Linked DNA regions of Homo sapiens: region 1 is reported to be linked to region 2. Evidence: microRNA targets listed by miRTarBase, many of them from high-throughput screens and not tested one by one. Region 2 holds a microRNA gene; the other region holds the end of a gene's coding sequence.

The links. The annotated mature microRNA hsa-miR-4683 reads UGGAGAUCCAGUGCUCGCCCGAU and lies in region 2 at 2,874-2,896, shown strand. An mRNA with a match to its seed (bases 2 to 7 or 8) in the 3' UTR can be bound and repressed. Matches are read on the target gene's strand: a 7mer-m8 pairs with bases 2 to 8, a 7mer-A1 pairs with bases 2 to 7 and ends in A, and an 8mer does both.
Region 1: miRTarBase lists DR1 as a target of hsa-miR-4683. The part of its 3' UTR that is shown has no 7-base or 8-base seed match.

Annotation. Positions count from the first base shown.
Region 1 is chr1:93,360,069-93,364,329 of GRCh38, forward strand. DR1 (down-regulator of transcription 1) reads left to right here. Exons shown (of 3, transcript NM_001938.3): 3 at 425-4,261. The coding sequence ends at 571. Among named protein-coding and RNA genes, the nearest start is that of DR1, 16 kb to the left of the region's middle.
Region 2 is chr10:35,639,485-35,644,076 of GRCh38, reverse strand. MIR4683 (microRNA 4683) reads left to right here and starts at 2,825; the gene lies at 2,825-2,905. It overlaps FZD8 (frizzled class receptor 8), which reads left to right and starts at 1,781. Exons shown (of 1, transcript NM_031866.3): 1 at 1,781-4,592. The coding sequence starts at 2,648. It overlaps LOC124902528 (zinc finger protein 469-like), which reads left to right and starts at 1,231. Exons shown (of 2, transcript XM_047426128.1): 1 at 1,231-1,447; 2 at 1,664-2,349. The coding sequence starts at 1,231. The coding sequence ends at 2,349. It overlaps LOC105376494 (a long non-coding RNA gene), which reads right to left and starts at 762. Exons shown (of 2, transcript XR_930820.3): 1 at 1-762. RefSeq lists silencers at 3,233-3,322, 3,862-4,156 and enhancers at 3,433-3,592, 4,412-4,592.

The sequences.
Region 1 (4,261 bases), not on the chromosome of region 2:
GATTGAAAAATGTTTGTATCAAAGTTGTAATATGAGGGTACAGAAGAGTCAAGTGAAATGAAAGGAAAAGAAGAGGGAAAGAGCCAGAGGGAATATTGTGGGTTTTTCACAATATTGGTTCCACTTTTTCAACTTCTTCAGTTGAATCAAAGGTCATAAATTACGTGAAATAAAACAGGGCCATTTATAAGAGATCCAAGTTTGAGAAATTTCTTAGACCTGTGTAGTTAGAAAAAAGCAATCTCTAATTATATTTACCTATAGAGTTTATGTTCTCCAGATGTGTGACAATTACATAGTACTTGGACAGTATCCAAGTATGATAATAAACTGTCTGAAATTGGCCTAATCTACATTTAACCAAAGTGTATATATTGTGGGTTTGTAAAAAATTGTTATTTTTTTTTATGTTTTGGGTGTTTAGGCTAGACAGCAACAAGCAGAATTGGCCCAACAGGAATGGCTTCAAATGCAGCAAGCTGCCCAACAAGCCCAGCTTGCTGCTGCCTCAGCCAGTGCATCTAATCAGGCGGGATCTTCTCAGGATGAAGAAGATGATGATGATATCTGAAATTCACCAGCTGAGTTTCTATTTCTTCTATAAATGTTTTTCCCTGCACAACAAAAACAGTGAAAGAAATGCTTATCTGTAATTTTGTATGCATCTTGGTGGACTTGTCATTGGTATTCTAGGGATGTCTGCTATTAAGTTTCATCTATTGTGTGCTATACATGTAAAAACTGTCTCTTTGAACTATTGAAAATTTAAGGTTCAGTATAATATCAATTTTGAATTTTTAATGGTGTTTATGAAATTTTAGATAGCAGCGAGTCCTTCGTTTGATCAATAAACAGTGTTACAGATAACTTCAAGTTTATAAAAATACAGTGAAATTTCTACAAAGCTCTAAATCTGCATTTGCATTTCCTCTGCCCTTTTAACTAAACTAAAACTTGTGAATTTTAAATTATTAAGGGGGGGGTGCTGTGTGAATCAGTAGACATTGGATTGGGTTGGTGAAAGAGTTCAGTTCTGTAGTATCTGAATTTGTCTTTTAAAATGAGTACATATATAGGCAATAAATATATATGCTCAGATCAATATACTTGTTTAGAAAAACTTCAAGACATTCAAAAACTAGGAAGGAGTATGTTTAATAGTATTTGTATAAATTTGGTGGTTATGTTTTTTTATTTTGTTTCTGTTTTGTGTAGAGGTAAAAACTATAGTTTTATTACAGCATAATTCATTTTGAGCTCCACTATGACATTTCAAAGACTGCCCAGTTTGGAAGTCTGTCATGATTTTTACTCTTTCACTCCAATTCAGTAATTGTTGATAGTATTACTTACCTAGTCCATCCATACTCATATTATTCAAATATATAGGTGGTACTTTTGAAACAATTACATTGGTTCTCTTGGTTTAACTGAGGTTTATGAATATTCAAACCTTTGCTGGGGGAAAGAAATGAAAGTTAATGAGCATGCTTGCTATGAGAGAGGGATTTTTAATTTAACTTGTAGTTATAGTTTACTTATTGTTTTTAGAATTACTTTTACATTTTCCCAACTAGATGGCCTAGAGTCCAACATTACCTTTTGAGATGACATTATTGTCTCCATAATTGAGTGATAGCTTTAAAAAAAAGATTAGTTTTGCTTAAGAAGTTATGTTACAACTGATCAGCCCTATATGAATTAACTGATCAGCCCTATATGAAACATAAGTTGTGTTATAACTTATCAGCCGTATATGGAACATAAATAGTTTCTACCTGCTTGTTAGAGAAGCTTTAATTTGGTTCTAATAAATACAGTATGGTAGTGTTTATAGGAATCCAGGATGTTGAAGAAATGGCATAATGTCTATATTTTGGAAACAGAAAGGAAAAGTCACTTAAGATAGTATTAAGTAATTAAATTCCTATGTCAGTTGCCAAATCTTTTAAACTTATGTATTCACCAAGCCCAAAAATAGATTGTGGCTCCCAGGATTCCAATTTTAATTGGAGAGCTAAGTAAGTAAAGTTTTATAACTGTTAGGTTTCTTAATGATCATATTTTGCAGTTTTAGTAAAAGGGAAATATTGTTATACATTTATTAAATATACTTCCCCCATGAAGTGAAAAGGTTAATTTTGCTGAATGTTTTAAGTTGAAGTTACTTCATGGATGTCATACCCATGAAGTGCATTTGGATGAGATAGAAGAAATTGTTTTTTAAAAAGTTTAAGTACCAAAGGTAGTCTAGTCTAGAACGATAAGTTAATACGTGTTGGCTTTTCTAATTTGTACTGTAACATCCTTATACTTTCTATTTTAAGTATATCTGTTTCTTAAGTAAACAACTTAGATATTTTCCACACCTTTTTTTTTTTTTCTGATGCAGAGTTCAGGTTAATATTTTACTGCATCTGATAATGTATTATACGTTTGAAGCCTAGTGACTTTTCATTTTGACATTCTTGTGATTTCATATGCTGTATTCTTCAAGCAATAAAATTGTGATGTGTTTTATAAATGGTTTTTATATTTAATGTTCTATAGAGAGATTTCTATTATTACCATTTTTACTATTTTCAAGAATCTTAGGCCCAAAAGACATTTTGGTCATTTGGTATGTAGTACCTGCCTTTTGTTTTTGTTTACTGTTATTTCAAAAAATGTGGTTTTACTTGTATTTTTATAATTTACAGTCCTAAGATCGAGGCATAACAAAGCTTACTTATGCAATATTTTATTTTTAGGTTTTTTCTTTTTTTTTTTTTTTTTTTTTTTTTTTTAGCATTTAAGAGTCACTATTATGTTTTGCCAGTTAAAATTTTTTAAATCTTTTGAAGAGAGAAACAAAATCTTCAGCGTTCTTGAGAAATAAAATTATTGTTCAGTAAGTATTTTTCCATCCCCTTGAATATATGTTATATATTCTTTTTCGGCAGATTATCAGATTAGTAAGTGTTTAAAAGGCATCAGTTTTTAAAACTGCATATACCACACACACACAAAACAGTACACAAATAAAGGTTTTCACAAATTAAACAAACTCACATACTAGTCTTCAGATCAAAACACAGAGCATTATGTGTACCCCAGAAGCCCTCCTCTTTCCCCATCTTAACACTGTCTTCTTTCTTGCTGAAAGTTACTATCCTGACTTCTAAAATCATAGATTAGTTTTGCCTGTTTTTTATTTTATGTAAATGTAATCATACATAATACACTTTTTTTCATTCATCATTTTTGTGAATATTTTAGTTTCTTGTTGCCACTGTAACAAACTACCACAAACTTAGTGACTTAAAACAACACAGATTTATTCTTTTATAGTCCTGGAGATCAGAAGTCCAAAAATCAGTTTCATTAGGCCTAAATCAAAGTATCAGCAGGGTTGGCTCTTTATTGAGGTTGTGAGGGAGAATGTTTTCTTCCCTTTTTTGGCTTCCAGTGACGGCCTGTATTTATGGGCTTGTGACCCCTTCCTCTCTATGATCAAAGCTTGCTTTTGTCATTATATCATCTTCTCTTCTGTAGTCAGATCTTTCCCTGCCTCTAAGTTTAGGGCTCACCTGCATAAAGCAGGGATAATCCCCCTATCTCAAGATCCTTAATTTAATCACATCTGCAGAATCTCTTTTGCCATATAAGTGACATTCACAGGTTCCAGGGATTCATACGCTGGCTATCTTTGGAGGCCGTTATTCAACCTGCCAAAGTGAGATCCATTCTTATTGTTGCATGTATTTGTAGTTCATTCATTCTCATTGCTGTATAGTCTTCCGTTTGTTTATCCATTTTTCATTACATCCAAAAGTTATTCATTCTCCCATTAATAGTCTTTTGAGAATTTTTCAATTCTGAGCTATTATGAATAGTACTGTGTAGAACATTCTTATACATGTCTTTTGGTGAGTGTATACATTTCCATTGAGTATAAACCTAAGAATGGAATTGCCAGGTTGTAGGGTGTGTATATTTTCAGTTTTAGTATTTACTGTCAAACAGTTTTCCAAAGTGACTGTAAGAAGGCACCATTTTAATGTGTAGCATAAAAATGAATTACGCTAATGATCTTAGTGGGTTGAATTTCTCGAAACACCTAAATTGTACCAAATGAGTTATATTGCAGCAGGTATGTTGTTAATTTCATATAACAGGAAAATAAGAGCAAAAGTAATTGCCCTTATTAACTGACACATTAGTATTACATACTCATTAGGTTATTGCTCCTTAGAAAAAATGCAAATTTTAAGTAATCGTA
Region 2 (4,592 bases):
AGCTCAAGCAATCTACAAATACTGCTGGTTATTTTTGTTTTATGACAAGAGTTGTTTCTGAACGGACAACCACGAGCTACCACCACCACCAGCAGCGCCCCGAAAACCGGAACTGGCCTCAAATGTACTTTTAATTCTTTTGCTCTGTCCCCACGCCCTCTGCAACTTTTGTTCTCCAACTGTACTTGTTCCGGTATGAAACCTGGCAAATAGCAAAAATCTTGAAACAAGAAGAGAGTGAGAGAGCGGAGAGAAAAGGGAGGGAAGGAAGGAGAGGGAGGAGGGGAAGAGGAGGAGGGGGGAGAGAAAGTGGTGGGGGAGAGAGAGAAGGAAAGGAGGTGGGGAGAGAGAGAGAGGGAAGACAGAAGAGAGGCAGGGAGGAAGAGGGAGAGAGGGGGACGGAGATGGGGAGGAGGCGGGAGGGAGGGAGAGAAAGAGAGAGAGAAACATATTCTGCCACCCTCCTGGCTAACTGAAATGCTTGTTCCCGAGATTACAGTAATTACTGCCCCAGCATGAGTTCCATACAAGCGCTAAATGAAACAGCACATCAATTAAAAAATAAACACTCCATTCTAGGAGAAAGACAGCCCCCTGGGACGCCCTAACAAGCGTAAATGAACCTGCCAGGCCGCCGGCCCGGGCCGCCCGCAGCCCCCCTCCCGGCCCGTCTTAAGGTGGCGGCGGAGCCGGCGGGGGCAGCGTTCGCTGGCGGTGGCCCAAGCGGCTGCTAAAAGCAGCCCGGGTCCGGCTCCGGCCTCGTGCAGAGAGCAGATACGTGTCGCGGAGTCCACGCCAGAGCGCAGCGCCGCCTCCCACCAGAGAAAAGGAGGCTCTGGCAAAAGCCTGTGAACTTGGGATGGATGAATAGACGTCCTGAAAGAACGAAGGGAAGACAGGGAATCCAGCCCCAGAGTTTCCAGCCTGTCCTATTTATAAGTTTCGAGGTTTGTTTTGAATTTTAGAAAGAAATTGAATGATTTTTCCTAAGAAAGCACGGCGGCTCGGGGCTTCCTATATTTTATCTCACCTAATTATCAAAGCCCCCTTGGAGATCTGTGCTATGATCACCCAACTCTCTAGGTGGGGAAACTGAGGCTCCCCCAGGTCACGCAGCGGAGGCGGGAGGAGAGTCTCTGGCGGGCATTTGTCCCCCGCGCCCCTCGCGCGCCCAAGGCTGGGCTCCGGGGCATCTCACCCGGGCCGTCCCGGGTCCAGCCCCAGTTTAGAATGACTCCACACCCCCCACATCTCCAAGTCTCAGAAACCATCGTTCTGAGAACCCCAAGGAGGACACCCTTTCCCGGGTCTTCTGCAGCGCCGAGCCCCGGCAGGCCTCCCCGGCGCTCGCCTGCTGCGAGACCTTCCTGCCGCCCCGAGGAGCACGAGACCCCAGCCGCCTGCAGATCACCCACATTTGCGGAGGGTGGCAGCAGGGGCTTGGCTGGTTTGAAACGCGCCGGGGAGGCGCGCGCTGCACCAAACCCCGTCCCTGTCCCCAAGGGCAGACTCGGGGTAAGGGGACCAAGACCTCCGACGCACTCAGCGCCATGGGGACAGCCATGGCCAACACTCTGTCTCTGCGGTCAATCCCAAGGTTACCAAAACTCTCCATCCGCAGAGAGCGCGCACAGCAGTGCGGACACTCGGGGACTGCCTTAAGGAAGGCTGAGCCCTGGGAGCGCGTGGACTCCGCCCTACCGCCCGGCGATTGGCTCGCGGGGCTGGGGGCGGAGACCGAGTCCGCGCTGTATAAATATTCATGAGCCGGCAGCGCGGCGCGAGCGGGGCTGGAGCCGGGAAGTTGGGCTAAGGGCGCTGCTCCCGCCGAGGAGGAGGCGGCGGCTGGGCGCGGGCCGCGCCACTCAGGTGTCCGCTCCGCCTTCCGGTCTGGATTTGCTCCTGGGTGTCCAGCAGGAAGGAGACTGTGTGCACCTCGCCCGACTGCGGCCGGAGCGCGGCGCTGACTTTTCCAGGCGGCGGGGGTCCGTCTGTCCCGGCGGCGGACGGACGAAGGACGGACGCCGGAGAAAGAGGGCGGCGGCCTGGGCCGAGGCGGGTCCCCAACTCCGGCGGCGGCGGCGGCGGCTTGGCCTTGGGGGCGGGCATGAGCCCCCGGGGGCCGAGTGGTGGCCGCCAGGGCTGACCCGGCGCGGCAAGCGGCCCGGCCCAGCCATCTTGACTGCGCACCGCGGCCCCAGAGGAAACTTGCGGCGCCTCCGCCCTCTCTGTCCGGCGGAGTCACCGCCGCCCGGCGCGGCGGGGAGAAGTGGTCGGGCGCGCGGAGAGGAGGCGAGCGAGCGCGGGACGATGAGCCGAGGCCCGGCCGCTCTGCGCCGCGAGGGCTGAGCGCGACCCGGGGCCAGCAGAGCGGACCTACGGACTGTGGCGCGCGCCTGCAGCCGCCTTCAAACCCCCGGAGCGGCGGAAAGGAGTGCGGAAGGGCCCTGCCCAGGCTGCGGGCCGCGCCGCTGCGGACGCGCCCCTAGAAGGGGTTAGATTATCGGCAGACCCCCCTCCCGGGCGAAGCATAAGGGAGACCCCAGATCACCCGCTGTACCCGTCTGCGGCTCTCTCGTGGGCCCCCCCCCCGGCACCCCTCTGCGCGCCGCCTGGAGGGCGAGGGCACCGGGCCGAGGCGCACAGCATGGAGTGGGGTTACCTGTTGGAAGTGACCTCGCTGCTGGCCGCCTTGGCGCTGCTGCAGCGCTCTAGCGGCGCTGCGGCCGCCTCGGCCAAGGAGCTGGCATGCCAAGAGATCACCGTGCCGCTGTGTAAGGGCATCGGCTACAACTACACCTACATGCCCAATCAGTTCAACCACGACACGCAAGACGAGGCGGGCCTGGAGGTGCACCAGTTCTGGCCGCTGGTGGAGATCCAGTGCTCGCCCGATCTCAAGTTCTTCCTGTGCAGCATGTACACGCCCATCTGCCTAGAGGACTACAAGAAGCCGCTGCCGCCCTGCCGCTCGGTGTGCGAGCGCGCCAAGGCCGGCTGCGCGCCGCTCATGCGCCAGTACGGCTTCGCCTGGCCCGACCGCATGCGCTGCGACCGGCTGCCCGAGCAAGGCAACCCTGACACGCTGTGCATGGACTACAACCGCACCGACCTAACCACCGCCGCGCCCAGCCCGCCGCGCCGCCTGCCGCCGCCGCCGCCCGGCGAGCAGCCGCCTTCGGGCAGCGGCCACGGCCGCCCGCCGGGGGCCAGGCCCCCGCACCGCGGCGGCGGCAGGGGCGGTGGCGGCGGGGACGCGGCGGCGCCCCCAGCTCGCGGCGGCGGCGGTGGCGGGAAGGCGCGGCCCCCTGGCGGCGGCGCGGCTCCCTGCGAGCCCGGGTGCCAGTGCCGCGCGCCTATGGTGAGCGTGTCCAGCGAGCGCCACCCGCTCTACAACCGCGTCAAGACAGGCCAGATCGCTAACTGCGCGCTGCCCTGCCACAACCCCTTTTTCAGCCAGGACGAGCGCGCCTTCACCGTCTTCTGGATCGGCCTGTGGTCGGTGCTCTGCTTCGTGTCCACCTTCGCCACCGTCTCCACCTTCCTTATCGACATGGAGCGCTTCAAGTACCCGGAGCGGCCCATTATCTTCCTCTCGGCCTGCTACCTCTTCGTGTCGGTGGGCTACCTAGTGCGCCTGGTGGCGGGCCACGAGAAGGTGGCGTGCAGCGGTGGCGCGCCGGGCGCGGGGGGCGCTGGGGGCGCGGGCGGCGCGGCGGCGGGCGCGGGCGCGGCGGGCGCGGGCGCGGGCGGCCCGGGCGGGCGCGGCGAGTACGAGGAGCTGGGCGCGGTGGAGCAGCACGTGCGCTACGAGACCACCGGCCCCGCGCTGTGCACCGTGGTCTTCTTGCTGGTCTACTTCTTCGGCATGGCCAGCTCCATCTGGTGGGTGATCTTGTCGCTCACATGGTTCCTGGCGGCCGGTATGAAGTGGGGCAACGAAGCCATCGCCGGCTACTCGCAGTACTTCCACCTGGCCGCGTGGCTTGTGCCCAGCGTCAAGTCCATCGCGGTGCTGGCGCTCAGCTCGGTGGACGGCGACCCGGTGGCGGGCATCTGCTACGTGGGCAACCAGAGCCTGGACAACCTGCGCGGCTTCGTGCTGGCGCCGCTGGTCATCTACCTCTTCATCGGCACCATGTTCCTGCTGGCCGGCTTCGTGTCCCTCTTCCGCATCCGCTCGGTCATCAAGCAACAGGACGGCCCCACCAAGACGCACAAGCTGGAGAAGCTGATGATCCGCCTGGGCCTGTTCACCGTGCTCTACACCGTGCCCGCCGCGGTGGTGGTCGCCTGCCTCTTCTACGAGCAGCACAACCGCCCGCGCTGGGAGGCCACGCACAACTGCCCGTGCCTGCGGGACCTGCAGCCCGACCAGGCACGCAGGCCCGACTACGCCGTCTTCATGCTCAAGTACTTCATGTGCCTAGTGGTGGGCATCACCTCGGGCGTGTGGGTCTGGTCCGGCAAGACGCTGGAGTCCTGGCGCTCCCTGTGCACCCGCTGCTGCTGGGCCAGCAAGGGCGCCGCGGTGGGCGGGGGCGCGGGCGCCACGGCCGCGGGGGGTGGCGGCGGGCCGGGGGGCGGCGGCG